Linked DNA regions of Homo sapiens. The main gene of each other region encodes a partner of the protein of the gene in region 4 in a complex. Each region holds a gene or a part of one and is shown on either strand. Other genes may lie near its edges.

The links.
Region 1: CETN3 (region 4) and NUP93 share a complex: the UniProt entries of both Homo sapiens proteins name them as parts of the nuclear pore complex.
Region 2: CETN3 (region 4) and NUP98 share a complex: the UniProt entries of both Homo sapiens proteins name them as parts of the nuclear pore complex.
Region 3: CETN3 (region 4) and NUP214 share a complex: the UniProt entries of both Homo sapiens proteins name them as parts of the nuclear pore complex.

What each region holds. Positions count from the first base shown.
Region 1 is NC_000016.10:56,841,629-56,845,128, reverse strand, and holds part of NUP93 (nuclear pore complex protein Nup93), read right to left. Parts: intron 3,425-3,500; coding exon 3,296-3,424; intron 631-3,295; coding exon 520-630; 3' UTR 1-519. UniProt on the Homo sapiens protein: Plays a role in the nuclear pore complex (NPC) assembly and/or maintenance. May anchor nucleoporins, but not NUP153 and TPR, to the NPC. During renal development, regulates podocyte migration and proliferation through SMAD4 signaling.
Region 2 is NC_000011.10:3,721,055-3,724,554, forward strand, and holds part of NUP98 (nuclear pore complex protein Nup98-Nup96 isoform 1 precursor), read right to left. Parts: intron 2,402-3,500; coding exon 2,103-2,401; intron 1-2,102. UniProt on the Homo sapiens protein: Plays a role in the nuclear pore complex (NPC) assembly and/or maintenance. NUP98 and NUP96 are involved in the bidirectional transport across the NPC. May anchor NUP153 and TPR to the NPC.
Region 3 is NC_000009.12:131,226,586-131,230,085, reverse strand, and holds part of NUP214 (nuclear pore complex protein Nup214), read right to left. Parts: intron 1,927-3,500; coding exon 1,755-1,926; intron 1-1,754. UniProt on the Homo sapiens protein: Part of the nuclear pore complex. Has a critical role in nucleocytoplasmic transport.
Region 4 is NC_000005.10:90,396,257-90,399,756, forward strand, and holds part of CETN3 (centrin-3), read right to left. Parts: intron 3,294-3,500; coding exon 3,102-3,293; intron 309-3,101; coding exon of another isoform or gene 237-308; intron 1-236. UniProt on the Homo sapiens protein: Plays a fundamental role in microtubule-organizing center structure and function. As a component of the TREX-2 complex, involved in the export of mRNAs to the cytoplasm through the nuclear pores.

The DNA.
Region 1 (3,500 bases), on a different chromosome or scaffold from region 4:
TCTGGACTTAAGTCACACTCTCTAGAGGAGGACATGGAGTGCTTGATATTTCACACACAAATCTTACATCTTCTAAGGCTGAGGTTGACTTTCACATTCAAATAAAAATGTGAAAATGAATCGTGACTCTGCTATATGGAATATTATATCTAAATAAAAGTAACTCCCAAAGGCTTTGTTTCCTGGCTCATTTTGGGTAGATTTTTAATTAATTAAGGTCAATTTAACCAAATAATGAATATCTACATAGCCTCTCATTCCCTGGCCCAAGAGCTAGTGACGGTATTTCCCATTACACAAATAAAAATGTAAACAAAATTTCAAAGAAAAAAAAAAAGAAAATAAAAGAATGTTGAAAAGAAATACAAATCAAAGAAATTTATTGGCGTTGACAAAAATACATAATACAGAAACCAAAACAAAACACAACAGAAACAAAACCAGAAACCCCAGCCTAGTGGGCCCATGTGCCTGATGTACTGACAGTGTGCCGACCCAGACTCCCACAAAGCATGGCACTTAATTCATGAGGACCTCCATCTGCACCAGCCTCGCATTGGTGTCCCCAGACGTTCGGTATGGTATCATTCCAGCAAAGGTAATCAGAGTGCGGGCTTGACTTCGGAGTTGCTGAGAGAGAAGGGAAGGAAGGGAAGGAAATCGGTTAACTTTCGAGTCAGGGCACTATTCCATATTCTTCCATCCTCTATTCCATGTTCTTCCATCCTCTACCCCAGCGTGTCAGGGACAGATCCCTGATGGGTGGATGACAGTCATACCCTCCTCTGTCACATTCCTTCAACATAACACAAAGTTAACAAAGCTCGTCCCCCGAGGCCTCTGTTCCACAGGCATCCAAACCCATCTATTAAGCAAAAAGCAGATGGGTTTGCCAGGCAAGCCGCCTCGCCCCAACACATTTGGCTAGCTTTTGACACAGCCCTGAGCTTCAGAACTGCCTGCTCCAATCTTCTGAGCCTCTCTCTCTGGCTGGTTTCTGTCCATCTGCTTTCACAGGGATCTGACTCTCCAGAGCCCCATGAAGCCCTTGTGACACCGGAGGCAAGGGCTGTGACTGTGCAGTCCCAATCCAGCTCTCTTCCTCCCATGCATCTTTCCTCTTCCTTCCTTTCATTCCTCCTGTTTCTCCCTTCCCGACATACATGCTTAGCCCTTCTTTCCCCAGGCAACAGTATTTATGGAATTCCTGGATTGTTCAGGATGGAAAAAGGTGGCCCTACAAATTTAAACCAAATCTGGACTAGAAAGGGAGAAATCTACCACCAACACCTTTCTGGACTAGTAACAAGAATTTAAAGAAACACTGAGGAGTCATCTACTAGGCTTACTTAAGGACCATTCCAGAAGAAAACGGAAAAGCAAATGCTTTTTACCTGATGTGTAAAACAAACTAGCGAGTGTATGTCCTTATTGATGTCCAAACAAAAAGAAATCTGACTTTGTGATGTGAATATCCACTGTATTTTCTTTAGAAGTGAATAAAAGGGCTCTCGTTAAATGAGCTCTAGGGATGTTCAAGTAAAAGGATTCACCCCTTTACTAGGCAGCATCTCACTTTAAACCATGAAACCAAGGACGTCAGTGGGCTTGCAGACTTCTTGGGCACGCAGCTTTTATAGATAACCTTTTACTTAATCCTATCCCTCCCTACCTTTCAGAAAAAGAAAGAAAAAGGAGAGTGGTGGGCAAAAGGAAGGCAGGAGAATGATCTTCAGACATGAGACATGGCCTGCCAGGGGACCAGCTCTTCTCAGTGGGCAAGCCCCACTGAACTGTAAGCAGCACACAGAGCACCAAGAAGTATCCACCATCTCAATACTCACATTCACAAACATCACTGCCCTGGGTTTCTATCATCAAAAAAGATTCCTGCCAAATGGTGGGCACCATGAACCCACCGCTGGCACATCTGACATTTAGACTCCTATCTGTCCGGGGTAGGCAGAAGACCAGCAAATGCTCTGGTGCACACCTGGATGGGCTGACCGCTTCAGTGGACCACTCTTGAGCACTGTTACCCACATTCCTAAAGGTGGAAATTTCCGCCATCTTTCACTAAGCACAAGTTTTGTCAACAACCATGCCTGTGGGGTCACAGTGGAAAGAGCTCACAGACATCTTGGAGGCAGAAGACAGATCAAGGCTTCTTGGCTGCCAAAACCAGGTCTGATGTTAGACACTGAGATGCTGAGAGTCTCATCAAAAATTAAGTGGAAAGGTTAAAGGAAAGGTAATTTTAAAAAACACTATTGTGGGGCCGGGAACGGTGGCTCACATCTGTAATCCTAGCACTTTGGGAGGCCGAGGTTGGGGGATCTCTTGAGCTCAGGAGTTCGAGACCAGTCTGGGCAACATGGTAAAATTCCATCTCTATATAAAGTACAAAACTCCGCTGGGTGTGGTGGTGCGTACCTGTAGTCCCAGCTACTTGGGAGGGTGAGGTGGGAGGGTGGCTTGAGCCCAAGAGGTAGAGGTTGCAGTGAGCTGAGATCGTGTCATTGCATTCCAGCCTGGGCAACAGAGCCAGGCCCTGCCTCAAAAAAAAAAAAAAAGCAAACACCATTGGACTGTCCCCTTATGGTTTAACTGGGTCAAAAAATACCTTTGCTCTTTTTTTTTGTAATCAGACAACATATGCTGTGAGCCCCAGGGTTCTAGCTACCTGGACTCCACTTGACCCATGCACTGCTGGAGGTCCCACAGGCAGCAGAAAGGGCACAGGTGTCAGAGAGACCCAGCCTCCAGACATGGCCCCTTCACCTACCTGCCACCTGAGGGCAGTTGCTTCCCAACTCCACAGCTCAGTTTCCTCAGCTGTGAGAGGGGATAAGATGCTGTCCTAGTTACCTCTCTAGGGTCACTGTGAACACAGGTGACAGGAGAAACAAGGGTTCACATTAATGTGTTGATCAAAAATAAAGTATGGTTTTAATAAAAGTGTTCACTAATGAGCTAGGACTAACAAAATAAACTTATCTTTTAAAATGTGCAGGAAGTTCTTATGGAGTCAACTAGAAATTAGCATTCTGTTTGATTTGTTAAAAGGTAAGATTTGCAGACCTAGTACATCTTTTTATTTTTTTAAGCTTGAGAAGAGCAGCAATCCCTTTAATATTTGATTTCCTCTGGGAGCCTCCTAACACGAGATTTATCCAGCTGCCAGGTACTGAGGAGAAAGAGCAGTTTTGGGTCATGTGGTCTCATAAGAGCGCAACGGATTCCAAACCAGAAAGGTGGTGCTTAGCAATGTTTCTCGCGAATGCTGGGATCTTACAGAGTCGCGGTCCTCGATGACTCGCTGGGGCCTGGATGACGAGGATGGACTTGTCCCCTTGAGCCTCTTAAACTGTGTGAACAAGATGTTCATGGTGGCAAGAAGCACTTCTGAGAGGTTGTGCCTGATCTACATAGAGAGAAAAACAGAGTAAAGAAAAAGAACCAAGCCTTTGGGGCCAACCACAGATGGAGGGAGGGTGGGC
Region 2 (3,500 bases), on a different chromosome or scaffold from region 4:
TCAAAGAGTCTAAAACTTACAGTAAATAGCCTATTAAACTCTGCTTAACCTCGTGTTTTTCCAGATTTAACCACAGAACATTATTTTCAAAGGACACCCATTAACATCCCGGACTATAAAAGGTATCTCATAAAATACTCTGAGAAAAGCTTAATCAGCTTTTTATTTTATTTTACACACAAGGATACCAAAACCTACAGTGGAAATAACTTGTGTTGGCTTATACTGTAATTTAACAATAGAAGTAGATATAAAACTCCAAACCCAATTCTTCTTGTTTCATTGCCTGTTTTGCATAAACCTCTTTTATTTTTCAAATTTACACTCCCAAATAAAGAGCTAAAAGAAAGATGAAAAATCCAGCCAGGCAAGGTGGCTCATGCCTGTAATCCAAGGACTTTGGGAGGCCGGGGTGAGTAAATCACTTGAGGCCAGGAGTCCAAGACAAGCCTGGCTAACATGGCAAAAATCCATTATCTACCAAAAATACAAAAATTAGCTGGGCATGGTGGCGGGTGCTTGTAATCCCAGCTACTCGGGAGGTTGAGGAAGGAGAATCGCTTGAACCTGGGAGGCAGAGGATGCAGTGAGCTGAGATCACACCACTGCACTCCAGCCTGGGCAACCAAGAGTGAAACTCGGAAGGAAGGGAGGGAGGGAGGAAGGAAGAAAAGAAGAAAGAAAGAATAAATTAAAATAGAAAAAAAAATACCAAAATAAAAAAAGCAGAGCGCTGAAAAACTCAAGGAAAGTAGTGGAACGCTGGTGTGCTTGCTTGCTCTATTCACTCCTTGTCCTACTTGTAGTCAGATATAAGGCTAACTTGCTCTCTGAGAGAAAAGTATTTCAGGCCAACATCAGACCAAACTCCAGCCTCCAGCAACACCCACTTGTATACTTGCTTCTTGGGAAGGGAACTCTAAATTGGGTGGCAGCAAACAAGGTAAATGAAAAAACTAGAATATAAAACTTCCTATTAAAAAGATATATAGTAGCATAATAAATTCATGTAGAGATACATACACAAATACAGATTAAGCACCTGGAATTCTTTTTTTTTTTTTTTTTTTTTTTAGGAGACAGGATCTTGGTCTGTCAACCCAGGCTGGAGTTCAGTGGCATAATCATAGCTCACTGCAACCTTGAATCCTGGGTTCAAGTGATCCTCCCACCTCAGCTTCCGTAGTAGCTGCAACTACAGGTACATGCCACCACACCTGGCTAATTACTTTTAAGTTTATTGTAGATATCAGGTCTTGCTATGTTGCCCAGACTGATTTCAAACTTCTGGGTTCAAACGATCCTCCCACCTAAGCCTGCCAAAGTGCTGAGCCACCACACCCAGGCTACCTGGGATTCTTACTGTCAAAGTATAAACTTCTTTCCTTATGATACTAAGTAACCAAATATATATATATATATAATGGCAATAAGAAAACTAAATATAAATTTTGGAGACACTTCAAGAATACCACAAAACACCCAAAATGGGCTGGGCATGGTGGCTCATGCCTGTAATCCTAGCACTTTGGGAGGCCAAGATAGGAGGATCACTTGAGCCCAGGATTTTGAGACCAGCCCAGGAAACATGGCAAAACAAAAGATGCAAAACTTAACGGGGTGTGGTATCATGTGCCTGTAGTGCCAGCTACTCGGGTGGCTGAGATGAGAGGTCCTGATCCCTGGAGGTTGAGGTTGCAGTGAGCCAAGACTGCGACACTGCACTCCAGCCTGGGCGACAGAGCGACACTGTCTCAAGAAAAAACAAACAAACAAACAAAAAACAATAAGCAATCTATCCGAGTTTACAAAGCCAGGGAAAATATCAGGATAGTCTCTTTGGCTATAAAATTTGGGTTCTTTAGACTACACCAGGATAATTAAAGATGTATCAATTTTCATACTCTAAGGTCCAAAGAGTATGTGAACTCTGAATCAACTAAAGCATAAAACTGTTTAAATATTAAGCTCTCCTATGTGGGATCACATAAAATAATACTTAAAATGCCAAACAGCTGACTTCCATATGTTGAATATCTGCAACAAGCAAGTCATCTCGAATGACTGGTAAGAGATTAAACATGCACCAATCTGAACCTGACCTGCTGGGTGCATATGGTAAGAATTATTTTCTATTTCTTCTCGGTCATCCTGAAGTGACTCATCATGAAAAGACGTTTCTTCACTGCTTCCTTCCAGCCCATTTCGCAAAGCAGCACGCATGTTTAATGCAACAATGGTATCATCCACACTGTTGCTGTTGCTGTGTTTATTTCCAGCACTTTCTGGGGTTTGAGGAATAGGTTTGGCAATAGGGTTAGTATAAAAATGTGAAACAAGGGAATCTTCATCTCCATCCTGCTGGTGATTCTCATCAACAGGTTTGCTTAGGAAACTAAATCTGCAAAGGAAAAGAAATAATACCTTAGCCTCTTGTAGTAGTAATAACAATGATAATAGCTAACTAATACCGAGCCTTTACTAAGTGCCTGGCACTGTTCTGGATAGTTCCATGTATTAAAAATTCACTTAATACTTACTACAGCAGTACTGTGAAACAGATAATTACTATCTCTATTGTATACTCTCCTATATGGAATCAAATAATTGGTTAATTTTAAGATTAAAAACTGAAAAAAATGTTAGATTTTTAAGATTACAATCAACAAAATGTTAAAAAATGCTTTATAAATAATAATAATAATAAAAAACACTAGAATTTTATCCAAAAGAAAAAAAAAACAGGAGTACAAAGGTGTCTATACAAAGGGTTTCTTTTTTTTTTTTTCTTTTTCGTGATACAGCCCTCAGGAGGCCCTGAGAACTTGTGCCAGTATATAAGGATTTTTACTGAAGCACTGTTTTGAGTACAGGAATACCGGATAATCTAAATGTCCACTAACAAGGAACTGGTCAAGTTATCTTACATTCACAATAATGACTTATGCAATCATTAAAAAAGAAAAGACAAATATATTCATACAGATAATGGAAAGGCATTTCTAATAAAATAAATGGAAATAAGCAGGTTACAGAATATATCATTCGTGCATAATCTTTATATAATAAAATATATTTATAAAGAAAGAAATTTCGGCTGGGTGTGGTGGATAACGCTTGTAATCCCAGCACTTTGTGAGGCCGAGGCGGGTGGATCGCTTGAGGTCAGGAGTTCAAGACCAGCTTGACCAACATGGCGAAACCCTGTTTCTACTAAAAATACAAAAAAAATTAGCTGGGCGTGGAGGTGCATGCCTGTAATCCCAGCTACTCAGGAGGCTGAGGCAGGAGAATTGCTTGAACAATTCACATCAGAGGATACAGTGGGCCGAGATCGTGCCACTGCACTCCAGCCTGGGTAATAAGAGCAAAACTCCATCTCAAAAAAAAAAAATAAATAAATAAATTTCTGATATGAAAGAATATATACCTAACTATTAAGAATCACTGTACAAGGCTGGGCACGGTGGCTCACGCATGTAATACCAACGTTTTAGGAG
Region 3 (3,500 bases), on a different chromosome or scaffold from region 4:
AATCCCCTGTGCCCCCTCACTCAGTTCTCCCTCCAGATATGGTCCAGCACACAAGGTGGCACTGTGTGACCTATCAGAGCCCCTTGAATTGTTTGCAGAGGAACTCGGCTGGGTTGGGGAGAGCTTCTGGGGTCTGGAGGTGACTAGGTGAGGGAAACGGATCAGTGGTTTCTGGGAGAAGGGGCAGCACCTGGGGGCAAGAATCAACCCCAAAGCAAGAAAAAGTATCTAAAACTCTGCCTTCCCACCATTCTATTCACTTTTAATGGTGAGGTCAAGGCTCTTTCCATACAAAGGTGGCCAAGGGATCTGCTCTCATTGGACTTTCTCCCAGGAGCGGCCTGCTCCCTTCCTCCTCCTGCCTTGGGCCTCATCAGCAACAGCCTGCCCTTCAGGGTCGGAGACAGGCTCATGGCCAGGGACCTGGAAGAAGGTAATGGGCTCTTATGGAGATTTAATAACTGACCTGGCATTAACCTTTTTTAGGACTGACTAACCAGCCAATCGGGATTTGTGTGAGAGCCGCCCCAAGGCAGAATATACTTTTCTACTAGTAAAGAAAACAGCTGGTTTCAAATAAATAAATCAATTCACAAGATACCCAGCCAACCCAAACCTTCTACCAACTCTGTGGTACTGTGTGCTGGTTCATCACTGCAGAGAACAGCATCCATTAAGACCTCTGAGAATACCAGCCTAAGTGGGTCTCTAACTGTCCTTTCAAAGCTTTCCTTAACTTTAATTCTTGGGGTTTCCTGAGGGCAAACCTAAGGCATCAGTCTCCCGTGAAACAGGAGAAGCAGCACGCCAACCCTCTCACTCCTGCTGCTGCGCTCCAGCATCTTGCACGGAGGGGAAGGGTGTGAGTAAGAACATACTATAGTTTATTTTCAAGATAAAGATGCTGTCATCTTGCCAAGACTCAGATCCAAGTATCTCAACAATTCCCCTAGACAAAATCATCTCCCCTCCCCCAAACCTTCAGCTCATGCTGAGCCCAGTACTGCGGCAAGAGGCGTTTTAGAACTCCTTTCAGGCATCGACACCTCCTTTGAACAAGAGACTTGGTAGTCATCCCGTGTACATTTTTTAAATTGGGATGTTGTGGTGTGGTGAAGGTTTTTTTCCCTTGGGGTTTTGGCAACCACACTGAAATTCTGCCCTTAAAAGCGACTCCCTAAAAATGGCCTTTTCCAGTGCAGACGCACACGAGGCAATGAGAGCAGCTTCGAAATCCCTGATCATCCAGGATCTTCCCACGGGAGGACCTGTGCAACTGAATACTCACTCTGGGGGGCTGCAGGGGAGCAGGGGACACAGGGAGTTGTTTGTTCAAGGACAACGGGTCTAACACAGAATAATCCCAAGAGGAAAGAATCTGGTGAAAACCATTCATTGAGGACTTCCTAACAGAAGCTCCACACCGGGGCACCTCTTGGCTACAAAGCAGTAGTTAAGGCAGGGCTGGTGCCTTCCTTTAGCCCCAGCAGGAGAACAGGGGCTCTGATGACCAGCATTTCTCATACCAGGGAACAGCAACACAGCTGAGGTCCACCATGAATTCAACAAAGCCTGGCTTGAACGAAATGAGTCTTACCCTGGAGAGGTACAGGAATCCTTGAGGGAGTTGTTCACAAATTTCAAGGGAGGGGCCTTCACCTCATGGTCAAATTTCTTTTCAGAGCAAGAGTACAGGCCCCTAGTGCTTTTTGGCTGGCGTGTGGGTTCCCAAGGGCCCTCCCCAGGGGGCTTACCCGAATCCTCCTGCGCTGGCAGCTGCAGTGCCCTCTCCGAACACTTTGCCTCCCGTCGAGCCCAGAGGGCTTGTAAAGGCTGGGGCTGAACCGAATGCTGGCACCCCTCCAAACCCAGGGGATCCCCCAAAAGTAGGAGGGCTGCCAAACACTGGAGCAGCACCGAAGCCACCTGAGCAAAACAGAGGCAAACAAACAGAAATAGGGAGAAAGAAAGGAGGAGACAGGAAGAGAAGACATTGAGCAATGAGAAACCAAATCAAAATAGGAAGAAAAAAGGGAAAAGAGGATGTTAGCAATTCAAATGCAAGAACTAGAGTAAAGGGCAACACCCCCCCTCCCCCCCGCCCTTCTATCAAGAAAATAGTAATGAAAACAACAAAACAAAAGCCCTCAAACCAAACCACTCCCCTCCATTCCTAGCAGAGGGCTCTGGGGTCCACTCAGGAGAGCTCCTGCAGACCCTGTGAAGTCACTGTGAAGCCGTGTGAGCAGACCTCCAAGAGCCCACTCGGTGCACCTTCCACCCCTCCCAGGTCCTCTGAGCTGTTTGGAGTGAAAAACCATTCTCAAAAACTCCAATCCCTACCTAGCTGACAAAAGATGACAGACTATATTACTTATCAGTACACAGGCAAGACATCCAGCTTCATAGAAACCCAAATTATAAAATCAGAGGCTCAAAACCTCCTCTCAGGGAGAATCCCTGAATTGGGTCATAGCAGAGACAGAGACGTGTATGCTGGCGCCCAGCCAGGTGCTTTTTATTTATTTACAGCCTGATGGCTCCTACGTCTCTCATCAGAGTCTCCCTTTCTCTCGCTCAGTGGAGGTTTGTTTTTTTTTTTTTAAATGCTTTTTTCCTGCAGTCTGGAATTACTTCCCAATGAAAAAACACACCAAATTTCTTCTTTGGAGGCAGGCTGCTGCATAAATCTAATAAAATAATAAGTCAACAGTGAGGACAGCCCTAGAGTTCAGATGCCTTCTGCAACGTTGCCAACACTGCTGCCCAGTGGGCTCAGGCTGCCAGAGGGCAGCACCACACAGGTGGCCACACAGACAAGGGTCAGGTCACGCACAGGGCACCCTACTCTGATTGCTGGTGATGCCTGTCAGGCAGGAAGACAAAACATCCTCTCCTGAGCTATTCCTGATGCGGGTTCCCAAACTTCCAAGATACTGCTGAAATCATTCTAAAGTATTAGAATAGACACTCAGTGAGTGTCTTCTTGAATGAATGGAATAGAATGGCATAAGAAATGTGCTCTAACTGGGAGCACCCTCTAAAGGGAGTACTTCTTAAGGTGAGTGTTGGCCTATGAACTGCGTGCTAGCGGGAGTAATGGTGGCCTAGCGACAAGCCTTTTCTCCCCTTTCAGAAAGTCAATCTGTTGTTAGAGGGATGAAATCCAGACTTCTTATTGTTTATGTAATCACAACACAAGCTTCTGCCATCTGAATCAGGAAAGATCAAATCCTGGGTATGAAAAGTTGTCAGCTGAATCCCTCAGTTAACTGTTATTTTGTGATTCACTCATGTGCCTATTTGCCATTAACAGTGGTAGGCTGCACAACTGAGAAGATACTTTTTTGCTAAGGCTCGTGTTTGGGTTAACATTCCGCATGTTAAAACACTGAGTGAAATTCCAAGCCATGATAATGGAGACTGTTGGGTTATAAATATAACAGACTGGAAAAAAAAAAGTGCTAAAAAACCCTTACAGTTGAATTATTTAAGACTGA
Region 4 (3,500 bases):
CATGCAATCAGTATTTAACATCTACAAAACACTATGACAAACATGGTAAGAACGTAATACAAAATCTGTAATACTCCAAACTACTTTCAAGAATCTTACAAATTGATGTAGTGATCTTTAACCTTTGCAGTTAAATAGCCATGTCTGAATATCTTAGGAAAGCTATGATCCCTCTCTCTTTCCAATAAATACAGTTCAAATATATAAAATTATTAATCAGTTTAGCCAGTGTGCACCTTCACTGAAGAACTCCCGATTTAGACTGAGGCATCTAGACCAAATAGGAAGCAAGAGTATGTTCTTAAGAACTGTATTAAGAGAAAAAACATAAAACAGCCTTAGAATGATTTGATTACAAATCATTTTAACAGTGTAATACATCCATGATTAAAATATTCAAAATCCAAAAAGTACTTGTTACTTAAAGATCTAGAACTTTTTCTTGATCTGTAAAATTTCAATACTCAAACTGCAAATTTTAAGTTTCATATATAAGTTTGAAAACCACAAAACACTTAATTTTTATATTGTTTATATACAAAAACTTTAAACTATAATAGCATTTCAAAAGTATTTAAAATACGGTCAGCCTTCTGTAACCACAGGTTCCTCACATCTGCAGATTCAACCAACTGCAGATGAAAAATATTTGGGAAAATAACACAATAAAAAATAATACAAATAAAATAAAGTATAACAATTTACATAGCATTTACATTGTATTAGGTATTATAAGTAATCTAGAGATGATTTAACGTATACAAGAGGATATGTGAAAGTTATATGAAAATACTATGCCATTTTATACAAGGGACTTGAGCACCATAGATTCTGGCATCCTTAAGCGACTTGGAACCAATCCCCTGTGCTTATCAAGGGACAACTGAATTCCATGATTCATACCTAAAAACACACTACTTAAACCCAAGAAAGTAAAAATTAGAAAGTGGCTCAGGAAATTAAACTAGCTACTTTACTTTAATTGTCTTGTAGACAATTAAAAGACAATCTTCTATATCTCTGTGCATTTGATTTTATAACCTTCTCTATTAACAATATCTTATATCAAGTTCCTATATCTAATAAATCTACCACAATGCCTAGCTTAAAATAAGCTTTGGTAAAACATTTATTGAATCAAGAAAATATGACACTTTGTTTCCTTTTATACTGCCTTCTTTAACAAAATTTTTCATACATCAACCATTTCATAGAGCAAATCTTATTACAAGTTGCTAACAATAAGAATTTTACAGAACTAAGTAGATTAAGTACCTTAGAGACCATCTGGCTTTGAAGGGGAAAAGCAAATCTTAGAATTGGAAGTTCCAACTGAGTATGTTGCTAATACACTGCTTCCTATAATAGCATGTAATTTTTAAAACTCCATAAACATAGAAGTCTAGTTAATATTTTACTTCATAGCCCGAAAGGCAATACAATATTACGTTTAAAAGCACATTCTTTGCCATTTTGGAGATTTGATTTTGAGTTCTGGCTCTACCATGTACAGTATTAGCTTTGTGATAACCTGGGCAGATTAATAATCTCTCAAAGCTTTAGCTTCCTCATCTCTATATATGCATCTATTATACACATGTATAGGTATAATACTATATCTACTTTACAAGTTATTATGGAAATTAAGTGACATAATTAATGCTAATATCCAATATAGTAGCTGCTAAATAAATGTTAAAAAACATCATCATTATTTAAAAGATTATCCATTCTGGCTTTTCAAAACGTTCCTTTCATTTTTTCCAAAAGATGTGCTGTGTTTTATTTTATATATGCTGTTGAGGGGGCAGGGGGAAGTGACTCTTTCTGTATCATTACCACAGCTTTATGTCTATCTTGTAGTACATCTTATTTACCTTTAACTTCACATTCACCATGTTTATTATTCTATATACCCAATATTTTTAAAATTTCATTGCTCTTAGATACTGAAAAGCATGAAAAAGTCACAAAGAGAGAAGAACACTAAAGTCCACAAAAAAGACAGCAAGGTCTAATCTTTAGCAGTTTAACATACAAATAAAGTGGTTTTTATCTCAACAAAACTTAGTTTCCAGCCAAAAGATTCCATATTAAGTGTATGAAAGTATCAAAACAATTTGTTTCTCTAAATGCTATAGGCCTTCAATGGAAGTCTCATGATTCATAGAGCGTTATGGGAAGCTTTTGGGAAAAAGATGGTGTTTAATATTTACCTGAGAGAATGAATCACATTTTAGCAGGCAGAAATTAACAATTAGAGCATTCTAAGATTAAGAAACAGCAGGATGAAACGAATAGCATAAAAATGTGTTTTCAGGATAGCATATGTTGACAAAATGTGTACATACAGGAGGTGAGGGTTAAAGAAGAAAAGTGAAAGAATACACTGGAAAGTAAAATCAGTTACTCAAGGTGGGATAGATCATAGAAGGCTTTGAACTTTACTCTGTAGGCACTGAAGAATCGTTTCAAGTGTCTAAACACAGAAATGGCATTATCAAATGTATATTTTAGGAAAAGAATGATACCAAGAGACTGAAGAAGAGATTAGAGACTTTTATATGCCGAAAGGGCAATTAGGACACTACAAGAGACTGCAAAGTGAAAGCAAGAACCACATCTGCCTTTTTCATTGTGTAGCACCAGTCAACACGCAGGACACTGCACCCAGTAGGCAGCCAAGGCAAGAATAAATGAGGCCATTATAACATTCCTAACTAGAAATTAGGGCCTGAACTAGGACAGCCACAATGGACAAAGATAAAAACAGATTCAAAACATTTGAAGGGGAAAATCAATAGAACTTAGAACTTAGCATGTAGGTTGAGGGAGAAGCCATTAAAGACTGAAATTATATTGAAAGGCTGAAATTTTGGTGGTTTCACCTTCAGAGAAAAGTGAAGGACCTTCTTGAAGTATAATTGGTTTTAGAGATCTGCTTCATTCTAAATTGAATATGTGAATTATTTAGACAGAAGGTCCATTACAAGAAGCAGTTAAGTTTACAAAAAAGTCTTGCAAGTCATTTGGTTTTAGAAAAATGTATTACATGTGTAGCATCAGGAAAACCTGGAAAATACGTTTCACTTAAAACTTACTTTCTCCATCACCATCTTTGTCAAATTCTTCTATCATAGCTCGAAGTTCTTCATCACTCATGTTTTCACCCAATTCTCTAGCAACACGTCGCAAATTCCTCAAGCTTATTTTACCTGAATCATCATCATCAAATAGTTTAAATGCCTTGAGTATTTCTTCATGGGGATCTCTTTCCAATATCCAGTCTGTCACTACAGTTTAAAAACATATATATTTTAATAAACCTGCATAATCACAAAGGCATTCATTTGTGAAATCAACTAAATATTAGATGAGAATTAAAGCTGTGACTGTCAACTTTTAGTCTGACAATAAAATGTCAAATGAGATCCCCAAACCCCGAGATAAACCTGAAATTAGAAAAATCAAATCCATATTTTAAATGTTAACCTTTTTTA